Homo sapiens: one gene and its partners. The protein of the gene in region 2 interacts with the protein of the main gene of each other region in a pairwise test. Each region holds a gene or a part of one and is shown on either strand. Other genes may lie near its edges.

Region 1 (3,653 bases), on a different chromosome or scaffold from region 2:
GCTGGGACAACAGATATGTGCCACCATGCCTGGCTTTTTTTTTTTTTTTTTTTTAATTTATTTTTTGTAGAGATGAAGTCTTCCTGTTTCCCAAGCTGGTCTCAAACTCCTGGGCTCAAATGATCCTCCTGTCTCAGCCTCCCAGTGCTGGGATTATAGGTTAGAGCCATGATGCTTGGCCTGACAACTTTTTTCTACCTTATTTGGCAAAGAGATATATTGACCAGAAAAAGATACTGGCAGAGAGATGTCATAATCTGAAAAATAAAAGAGAATCAAGTATTTACTCCAAGAGATCATTTCCTTCTAGAAAAGGGAGGTGTGTCGCCGGGCACGGTGGCTCACACCTGTAATCCCAGCACTTTGGGAGGCTGACGTGGGCGGATCACAAGGTCAAGAGATCAAGACCATCCTGGCCAACATGGTGAAATCCTGTCTCTATAAAAATATAAAAGTTAGCTGGGCATGGTGGCAGGCGCCTGTAGTCCCAGCTACTCAGGAGGCTGAGGCAGGAGAATCGCTTGAACCTGGGAGGCGGAGGTTGCAGTGAGCTGAGATCGTGCCACTGCACTCCAGCCTGGCGACAGACTGCACTCCAGCCTGGCGACAGAGCGAGACTCCATTTCCAAAAAAAAAAAAAGGAGGTGTATGTTAGCTGTTTGCGTTGCTGTAAAGGAATACCTGAGAATACCTGAGACTGGGGAATTTATCAAGAAAAGTGGTTCTTTAGGCTGTACAGGAAGCTTAGCACCAGCATCTGTTTCTGGTGAGGGCCTCAGAAAGCTTGCAATCAGGACAGAAGGCGAAGGGGAAGCAGCTTATCACGTGTTGGGGAGGGAGCAAGAGAGAGAGGGGAGGAGGTGCCAGGCTCCTTTTAGCAATGAGATCTTGGCCGCGTGCGGTGGATCACTTAAGGTCAGCAGTTGGAGACCAGCGTGGCCAACATAGTGAAACCCCATCTCTACTAAAAATACAAAAATTAGCCGGGTGTGATGGTGCATACCTGTAGTCCTAGCTACCTGGGAGGCTGAGACAGGAGAATTGTTTGAAACTGGGAGGCGCCACTGCACTCCACCCTGGGTGACAGAGTGAGACTCTGTCTCAAAAACAAACAATAAACAAAACCAATCAGATCTTGTGGTAACTAATGGAGCGAGGACTCACTCATTACTGTGAGAAGGACACCAAACAATTGAGAAGAGATCAGCCCCCATGACCCAAACAGCTGCCACTAGACCCCACCTCCAACACTGGGGGTCACATTTCAACATGAGATTTGGAGGAGACAGATATCCAAATGCTATCTGCCTTAAAAACAAATTGGATAGTTTGGTTTTCTATTCTGTGGAAGAATTTGTGTAAGATTGGTAATACAGTTCTAGAACTTTATAGTTCTTGGCCTTTTGGAGATTAATTCTAGAACAGCGTAGGTTTTCTGTTTGATTTTTAGTTCTGTCAGTTTCAGTAAGTTGTGTTTTGTTGGGAATTTGCCCATTTTATCTAAAATGTCAAATTAGTTGGCATAAAGCTGTGAATAATGACCTCGTAGGCTCTTTTCACCTTCTGTAGGGATTCTTGGTGTGCATTTCCTTTTTTTTTTTTTTGAGACGGAGTTTCACTGTTGTTGCCCAGGCTGGAGTGCAATGGTGTGATCTTGGCTCACTACAGCCTCTGCCTGCCGGGTTCAAGCGATTCTCCTGCCTCAGCCTCCCATGTAGCTGGGATTACAGGCTTGTGCCACCATGCCCGGATAATTTTGTATTTTTAGTAGAGATGGGGTTGCACCATGTTGGCCAGGCTGGTCTTGAACTCCTGACCTCAGGCGATCCACCTGCCTTGGCCTCCCAAAGTGCTGGAATTACAGGCGTGAGCCACTGCGCCTGGCCCTTTTTTTTTTTTTTTTTAAGAGGTGAGGCCTCACTCTGTCATCCAGGCTGGAGTGCGGTGGCGCACAATCATAGCTTGCTGTAACCTTAAACTCCTGGGTTCAAATGATCCTCCTGCCTCAGCCTCCCTAGTAGCAAGGACTATAGGCACGTGGCACTATGCCTGGCTAGTTTTTAAATTTTTTTGTAGAGATTGGGTCTCACTGTGTTGTCCAGGCTTGTCTTGAACTCCTGGCCTCAAGTAATCCTCCAGCCTCAGCCTCTCAGAGTGCTGGGATTATAGGCATGAGCCACCATGCCTGGCTGGTACTCTGCATTGATAACTTGTGCTTTGTCTTTCAAAAAATATTTAATTTTGTAGGATCTTCTGGATAAATATTCACAAATATTGCACGTGTTGATAATTTTATATCTTATTTTGATGTTAAATGAACTAGAATATCCAGGAAAGTATTCAATGGTAATGGTAAAAGTGCATACAACCTCCTCTACGTAACAGGAATACATTAATTTTTTCTTACTGTTAGGTATCCTTTTGGCTGTATACACGTAAACATGCTTTATTACCCTATGGAAGCATTTTTGAAATTTCTCAGTTTCAGCTGGACGCGGTGGCTTACGCCTATAATCCCAGCACTTTTGGAGGCTGAGGCAGGCGGATCACGAGGTCAGGAGATTGAGACCATCCTGGCTGACGCGGTGAAACCCTGTCTCTACTAAAAATACAAAAAATTAGCCAGGCGTGGTGGTGGGCGCCTGTAGTCCCAGCTACTTGGGAGGCTGAGGCAGGAGAATGGCGTGAATCTGGGAGGTGGACCACGCTTGCAGTGAGCAGAGATCGTGCCACTGCACTCCAGCCTGGGCGACAGAGCGAGACTCTTTCTCAAAAAAAAAAAAGAAATTTCTCAGTTTCTTACATGTGTTCTCTCTTCCCCTTTTCCTCTTCCCTTCCTCCAGTTCAGCATGTCATAGAACTTTCACAAGTGGTTATGAAATCTTAGATATGCTATGGAGAAAGAGGTTATGGCATAGCAAGAGCATTGTTCTGTGAGAATTGGAGAGAAATCTATTCTTAATGTGTATTTATTTATTTATTTTTGAGACAAGAGTCTTACTGTTTCATCCAGGCTGGAGTGCAGTGGTGTGATTATGGCTCAGTGCACCCGGGAACTCCAGGGCTCAAGTGATCTTCCTGCCTCAGCCTCCTGGTAGCTGGGACTACACGTACGTCCCATCATGCCTGGCTAATTTTTAAATTTTTATTTGTAGAGATGTGCTCTTGCTTTGTTGTCCAGGCTGGTCTCGAACTCCTGGCTTCAAAGAATCCTCCTGCCTTGGCCTCCCAAAGCATTGGGATTGCAGGTGTGAGCCACTGTGCCCAGCATTAGTCTGACTTTTTTATAGTTAGCTTTGTATTTGCTTGTCTTTTTTAAACAACCTTATTCAGTTTAATTGACATAAAATAAACTGTGTGTTTGGAGTGCACAGTTTTGTGTTGTGACATATCTATACACCTGTGAAACCATTATCATAATCAAGATAGTAAACATATTCATCACCCTCAAATGTTTCTTTTTACCTCCCTCTACACCTCCATTTCCAGGCGATAATTTATCTACTCTGTCACTATATATTGGCTTGAATTTTCTTCCCCCTTTTTTTTTTTTTGAGATGGAGTTTCACTCTTGTTGCCCAGGCTGGAGTGCAATGGCGTGATAACGGCTCACCACAATCTCCGCCTCCTGGGTTCAAGTGATTCTCCTGCCT
Region 2 (3,653 bases):
TCAGCACTGCCTTTCAGGAGCCTAACCCTTGGGCAGCTGTAGCAGAGGGCGCTGAAGCTAAACCAGGACTCTTGAGCGAGGGCGCGAGACAAGCTAGGGTTAACAGTGACCCTTGGGTTTCAGCAGAGGCAAACGAAAGTACACTCTGGAGAAAGTCTCATTCAGGCCTGAAGAATCCCACAGATTAAGGAAAATTAAATATGAATTCATAATCAAGAATGACAACGTAAACAGCAGATGTGGACTGAAGATGACCCACTGTGCCCCGACTTGAAAGAGAACCAAGTAGAACTGCTCTCAGTGAGAACTGTAGATATTTTAAAGCAAAAACTTACAGACAGGTTTTGTATCAGATTAGATACAGTTAATGAGAATGGGTACAGAACCAAGTAGAACTGCTCTCAGTGAAAACTGTAGATATTTTAAAGCAAAACCGTATGGATGGATTTTGTATCAGATTAGACACAGTTAATGAGAGAATGGGTACACCAGACATCAATGTGAAGAAATCATCCAGTGACAGTAAAGGAGGTGAAAAATGTGAAATAGGCGTGAAAAGATGTAAGGACAGAATGAGAACCTTCATAAAATAGGGCTTTGGCCCCCATCCCCAAAGGAGAGAACAGGAGAAGCCTCCTGGGAAGAGAGGATGCCTGAGGACCTCCTGAACTGATGAAGGCACGATTTTTCAGATACAGGAAGCACATGTAGACCAAGCAGAGCGAATGCACAGAAATCCACACCTAGGCAGGCCCTGGGGCATCACAGACCATCAGAGACAAGGAGGAGCCGGGCGCGGTGGCTCACGCCTCTAATCCCAGCATTCCAGGAAGCTGAGGCAGGAGGATCCCCTGAGGTCAGGAGTTTGAGACCAGCCTGGCCAACATGGTGAAACCCCATCTCTACTAAAAATATAAAAATTAGCTGGGCCTGGTGGCACATGTCTAATCCCAGCTACTGGGGTGGCTGAGGCAGGGGAATCATTTGAACCTGGTCGGTGGAGGTTGCAGTGAGCCGAGACTGCATCACTGCACTCCAGCCTGGGTGACAGAGTGAGACTCTGTCTCAAAAAAAAAAAAAAAAAAAAAAAGATAAGGAAGTCTTCGAATCCCCGGAGAGGAAAGCTGGAGAACCACGCTGGATGGTCAGCAGTGAGGCCGACAGCAGATTTCTTACGGCAGGCAGCAGTGGCGGGAGAAGGTGGAAGATCCTCAATGTGCTGGAAAATCACCAACCTAGCACCCTGTGTTGTTCAAGAGTACAAATAAAATAAAAAGGTTTTGGTAAACAAAAAAATGAGAGCTTTTACTGCCCATAGATCTTCACTTCAATATTTTTTAAGGATGTGTTTCAGTAAGAACAAAAATTATAAAAGTAGGGTATAATTTTCAAGAAAGAATGGTAGCCAAAGAAATTAGGAGATGGATGAATCTAAACCGTATGTAAAATAAAAACAGTGCTCAGCCGGGCGCAGTGGGTCACGCCTGTAATCCCAGCACTTTGGGAGGCCAAGGTGGGCGGATCACCTGAGGTCAGGAGTTCAAGACCAGCCTGGTCAACATGGTGAAACCCCATCTCTACTAAAAATACAAAAATTAGCCTGGCATGGTGGTGGGCACCTGTGATCCCAGCTCCTCAGGAGGCAGAGGCAGGAGAATCGCTTGACCCTGGGAGGTGGAGGTTGCAGTGAGGTGAGACTGCACCACGCTCAGCTAATTTTTTGTTTTGTATTTTTATTAGAGATGGGGTTTCACCATGTTGCCCAGACTGGTCTCAAACTCCTGACCTCAGGTGATCCGCCCACCTCGGCCTCCCAAAGTGCTGGGATTACAGGCGGGAGCGCCCAGCCCAGGTTCAGATTTTAATGGTAACTTTGTTAAGTATAGGGTAGGAAAAAAGAGAGATCAAACATAGCTTCCAAAGTATTAGAAAAAGATAAAGAAAAAAAGGTAAATCTCTTTTGTTAATGCAAGAAAGTAGAAAGAAAAGCATTAAAATAAGAAATATTGAGGTATACATTAAGATCAATATAAAATTCCCAGATACTTGGGATGACCACAAATACACAAGAAAAGCACTTCAGTAAGAACAGAAATAATCGGCCTCTCCATCTGCTGGGCTTGCGTGGGTATGTGAATTCCGTCTGTGACTTGTTGGATTTGGGATGTTCTCCACTTAGATTTATTTCCATGAATATGTTTGTGGGAGCCTTTCTGCAGTCAGAGGTATGTGGAAGCCTTTGCCAGTTCAGGGGCGCATGGTGAGAGCAGACCTCACAGTGGGTTTGTTTATGTTTGTTTGTTTTTGAGACAGGGTCTTGCTCTGTCGCCCAGGCTGGAGTGCAGTGGTGTGATCTTGGCTCACTGCAATCTCTGCCTCCTGGGCTCAAGCAGTCCTCCTACCTCAGCCTCCTTGAGTAGCTGAGACCACAGGTGTGCACCATCATGCCCAGCTAATTTTTGTATTTTTTGTAGAGACAGGGTTTTGCCATGTTGCCCAGACTGGTCTCCAACTCCTAGGCTCATGTGATCCTCCTGCCTCAGCCTGCTGGGCTGCTGGGATTACAGGCTGAGCCACCGCACCAGCCACAGTGTTTTCTGATGACCCTGAACCACGGTTTTATTTTCAATTCTTCATTCCTGTTCTCATTCCTTAATGCTGGGTGCCTTCTTGCTGCCCATTTTGAACTCACTGCCAGTGTGTCTCTGCTGTCATCTGATGTGCAGAGCTATAGGTGCTGCGGCGAAGGGTGCAGGTTTGGAGCCGTTTAAACAACCTGGCCCAGCCTCCTCACTCCCTGCTGACCTTGGTCAAGGCTTCAGTCTCTAAACCTCAGCTTTCTCATCTGCAGAGCACAGACAAAACCACCTGCCTTTGAGCTGTCTTATAAAGCCTAAATCAATGCGCACAGCAGGTACACAGCAATGCTTGATAAATTGTTACTATTATTGGGTGAATTTTAGGTTTTTTTTGTTGTTGTTGTTGTTTTGAGACAGAGTCTCTCTGTTGTCCTGGCTGGAGCACAGCAGTGCGATCTTGGCTCACTGCAACCTCCATCTTCTGAGGTTCAAGTGATTCTCGTGCCCCAGCCTCCCAAGTAGCTGGGATTACAGGTGCCTGCCACCACATCCAGCTAATTTTTTTTATTTTTAAGTAGAGATGGGCTTTTGCCATGCTTCCCCAGCTGGTCTTGAACTCCTGGCCTCAAGTGATCCTCCTGTCTCGGCCTCCCAAAGTGCTGGGATTACAGGCTTGAGCCACCGCACCCGTCCAGAATTTTAGATTTTTTTAAATCCGTGGTTGAAAAATAGGCTATGGCTGGCTTACTCATTGTGCTTTAGGGAAGCATGTATTTGAGTGAAGGAAATGATAAAAGGAATTTCATATCGGGCCCAGGCGCCGCCCACCCTGCAAGACAGTTTACAGATGCCTGCCCTGACAGCTGTCTGCAGTTAGCCAGCGTCAGCCGAGGGGTCCTGAGATCCGCTGAAGGCTGCCTTTGCATGCCGACAGCAAGGGAAAAGTGCCACATGTCCCTGGGCTTGCCACAGGTGACCTTTGGATGGGACCATTCTCCAGACAGCGCAGCTCGTCTTTCCAGAACACTCATGGGGAGTGTGCCTGTGTCTGGCTGGCTGTGTGGGCTCCCATTC
Region 3 (3,653 bases), on a different chromosome or scaffold from region 2:
ATGGTTTATCCAAGCAATGGAAAACTACTCAGCAATAAGAAGGAATGTACTGTGGATACGTGCAACAACATGGATGAATCTCAAAAACTTCATGCTGAAAAGTAAACAAAAGAGTGCATAGGATGATTTTAGTTACTATATATGAAATTCTAGAAGAGGCAAAACTAATCAGGGGGTAGATATGACAGTGGCTACCGAAGCTGAGTATTCATTGCACAGGGGTACTAAATAATTCTTCTGGGACAATGAAAATGTTCTACATTTTTAGGGGTATGGGTTTTATATATATGGGTATATATGGTTATATAGGCATTTGTCAAAACTCATTGAACTGCACACTTAAGATCAGAGCATTTCACTGTTTATAAATTAGGGAGACTGTTCAGTCCCAGTTTTGGGTAGCCTAGAGACAGTTTAAAAAATTTTTTAATTTTGAGACAGGGTCAAAAACCAAAACAAAACAAAAAACTAGAGTGCAGTGGGATGATCACGGCCACTGAAGCCTCATCTTCCCAAGCTCAAGCTCTCTCTCCTCCCACCCCAGCCTCCTAAGTAGCTGGGACTACAGGCATATGCCACCACTCCTGGCTAATTTTATTTATTTTTTTATTTTTTTTATTTTTTTGTGGAGACGAGGTCTATGTTGCCCAAGCTGGTCCTGAACTCCTGGGCTCAAGTAATCCTCCTGCCTCAGCCTCCCAAATTGCTGGGATTACAAACCTGAGCCACCGTGCCCAACCTGACAGTTTTCACTACAAATTCTTTTGTACTTTTTCAACTTACTGTATGCATATAATCATTTTTAAATGGTACTTTTATTCTTTTACTTTAAACCTGTCATGTTTCTAAAATGAATGAGAAATGCTTATTATTCTTTCAAAATTACATAATATCTCTAGGCAGAGTTTCTAAAAGTATTTAGAATTCTGATATTGCATGAAACGGCTAGGGCAGGCGAGCGCAGTGGAGTGCCGCGCGGTGCGGTGCGGGCGGCAGAGTTGGGGTGTCATGGAGGATGAGCGGAGCTTTTCGGATATCTGCGGTGGCCGCCTGGCCCTGCAGCGCCGCTACTACTTCCCTTCCTGCCGGGAATTCTGCCTCAGCTGCCCTGGGCTCTCGCTGCGTTCGCTCACCGCTGTCACCTGCACGGTGTGGCTGGCAGCCTACGGACTCTTCACCCTCTGCGAGAACAGCATGATCCTCTCTGCTGCCATCTTCATCACCCTCTTAGGTCTGCTTGGTTATCTCCATTTTGTGAAGATTGATCAGGAGACTGTTAATCATTGATTCCCTTGGCATTCAGATGACTTCATCTTATGCTTCAGGCTAAGAAAGCACTACCTTCATAGAAATGGGCAAGGTCAAGGATATTGTCATCAATGAGGCTATTTACATGCAGAAGGTGATTTACTACCTCTGCATCTTATTGAAGGATCCAGTGGAACCACATGGGATATCCCAAGTAGTACCCGTCTTCCAGAGTGCCAAGCCCCGGCTGGACTGCTTGACTGAAGTATACAGGAGCTGCCAGGGGATCCTGGCACACCAGAAAGCCACATCAACAAGCCCATGAGCCCCAGCGTTCAGAAGGCCAGCATCGTCTTCCATGGGAGATGACTCTTAAGCCATAAGGGTTGGTTTTCCGTACTCCAAACCATCAGGTGGACACAGTCCTAGGAACCATTATGGATATAGTGCATCTCAGAGCCATAGAGCAGGTGACTGGAAATCTAACTCAGTATATTTCCACGTATTATAGTGTTTTCCTTGTAAGGTTTTGCCTACTTTACCAAAGGAGGGGAGACCTTAAGAATTTTGACACAGTATGTCAAAAGTAATGTCAGCAAAGAACATTGGGAAATTGCTAAGCATGTTCAGGTTTACTTTGTTGATGTTTGTGAAGCAAAACAATGGGAAACTGACATCAGATGTCTTGAGAAAGCTATATTTTCCATTAGTGCCCCTTGTGTAAAGTTACAAAAAAAACAAGCCCTCCAGGAACTGGTTAGCAGGAAGAAATGTCCTACAAAAGACGAGTCTCTCAACCTAGCGCCTGTGTTCTGTACAGGGCTTATTTACTCTTAATAAACAGATATCCTTCCAAAAAAAAAAGAATTCTGATATTGCATTAAACAATCTGAAAAATCCTCAGTAACTCTTACCCCCATGGCTGATAACTTTTTTATAGGGTTCAATTGCCTTCATATCAACCCTGTGGTCCTGTTCTCCAATCCTGAACATACGCCAGCGTCGTCCATCTTCTTTTTCCTCTGCTGCTGTGTATTCAGTAATTGAGCCTTTCCTAATTACTTCAGTAGTCTTGGGTTTTGGAAGATCATCTGTCAAAATACAAAGTTTTTGAATCACAAATTGTTACACAACAAAAATCAAATTATACGTTAACCACTTTACTACCTAGATTTTACAGAGAATTTTCATTATACCATCTGCACAATTTTCAATCTCTCTTCCATAAAGGAGGAAAAGGCTTATTCTTAACATGAGGCTGTTTTATGTCTTTGGAAATCATGGTTCTTTAACTTTTATTGCCCAATTTAGCAAAAACCACCTAATCATAGTGAAACGTGTATCCACAAGTTCAGAAAATATAATTTGTAGAGTCATCAAAATCTTAGTACACTGGCCTTACAATGCCTTTCCAGATTCAACTTGTGACAATATTCTCCCTGGCAGTTATGACTATAGGTTACTTCAAGTAGCTATCTGGGAGCCAATTTTGTTGTTGTTGAGCACATAAATTAACTGTAATACCAGATAGGAAGTGGTTAACTACTCAATGATCACTTCTCATTTGATCAGTTTTATAAAGCAGAAATGTATTTATAATACTTTGAAGTATACATGCAGAAGTCTATTTAAATTAGCATTAGCCAAAGCATAAGCACCAATGATTAAGTGTAATTTATGTTTTGAGATTGCAGTTTAGCTGATTTTCAATGTAGTAATAATTTTCAAAATTTCAGTATTATAGTCCTTACCAAAAGATGGGGGGAGGGGGAAACCTACTGCATGTTAGTTGTTTCCAAGACAAAGCTGTTAACGGAAAATATCCTTCCAGGAAATGACTACAGCAGCATTAAAGAAAGAAGAGACAAAACACATAGGCACAAAACTATTTCAGTATCTTTACAAAGTATTGCTTACTACTGGACTGTTTATTGAACCAGTAAAACAGGGAAGAAAAAAGAAACCAAAAATATAGCATATCACACTTTATTACAGTAAAATACTGAATGCTAAACACTACTATGAAAACAAAATCATTTTCAAGATGGAAAAAAATATGTAAAAATTATAACAACTATATATAAGATACTGTAGACAATTTTGTAATTAAAGAAAGCATGCAAAGTAAAACAGCACAATTCCTTTGAATTACAAGTAATAAGGAATACTAGGTTCGGGGGCTAAAAGTATACATTAATTTAAGTTGGTCATTTCACAAAGTAGAGCAATGTCAGGCAAACCTACTTAAAAAGTCACCCCAAATGCCTCCTTTCAGAACTCCCTTCCCACAAACTGTTAACTATATGTCTCTTCAAAAGTTTCTTACTTGATTGACTAAAAAAGAGCATGCCATAATTATCAAGAAATATTTTTGAAACAGCTATGAAAAAAACATGAGAGCAGTG

Evidence for each region.
Region 1: the proteins of AGPAT3 (region 2) and SLC71A2 interact in binary tests that used the Homo sapiens proteins (3 or more experiments, as listed by UniProt).
Region 3: the proteins of AGPAT3 (region 2) and BNIP2 interact in binary tests that used the Homo sapiens proteins (3 or more experiments, as listed by UniProt).

The regions. Positions count from the first base shown.
Region 1 is NC_000009.12:94,377,500-94,381,152, forward strand, and holds part of SLC71A2 (hippocampus abundant transcript-like protein 1), read left to right. Parts: intron 1-3,653.
Region 2 is NC_000021.9:43,962,641-43,966,293, forward strand, and holds part of AGPAT3 (1-acyl-sn-glycerol-3-phosphate acyltransferase gamma), read left to right. Parts: intron 1-3,653. UniProt on the Homo sapiens protein: Converts 1-acyl-sn-glycerol-3-phosphate (lysophosphatidic acid or LPA) into 1,2-diacyl-sn-glycerol-3-phosphate (phosphatidic acid or PA) by incorporating an acyl moiety at the sn-2 position of the glycerol backbone.
Region 3 is NC_000015.10:59,675,749-59,679,401, forward strand, and holds part of BNIP2 (BCL2/adenovirus E1B 19 kDa protein-interacting protein 2), read right to left. Parts: intron 2,340-3,653; coding exon 2,163-2,339; intron 1-2,162.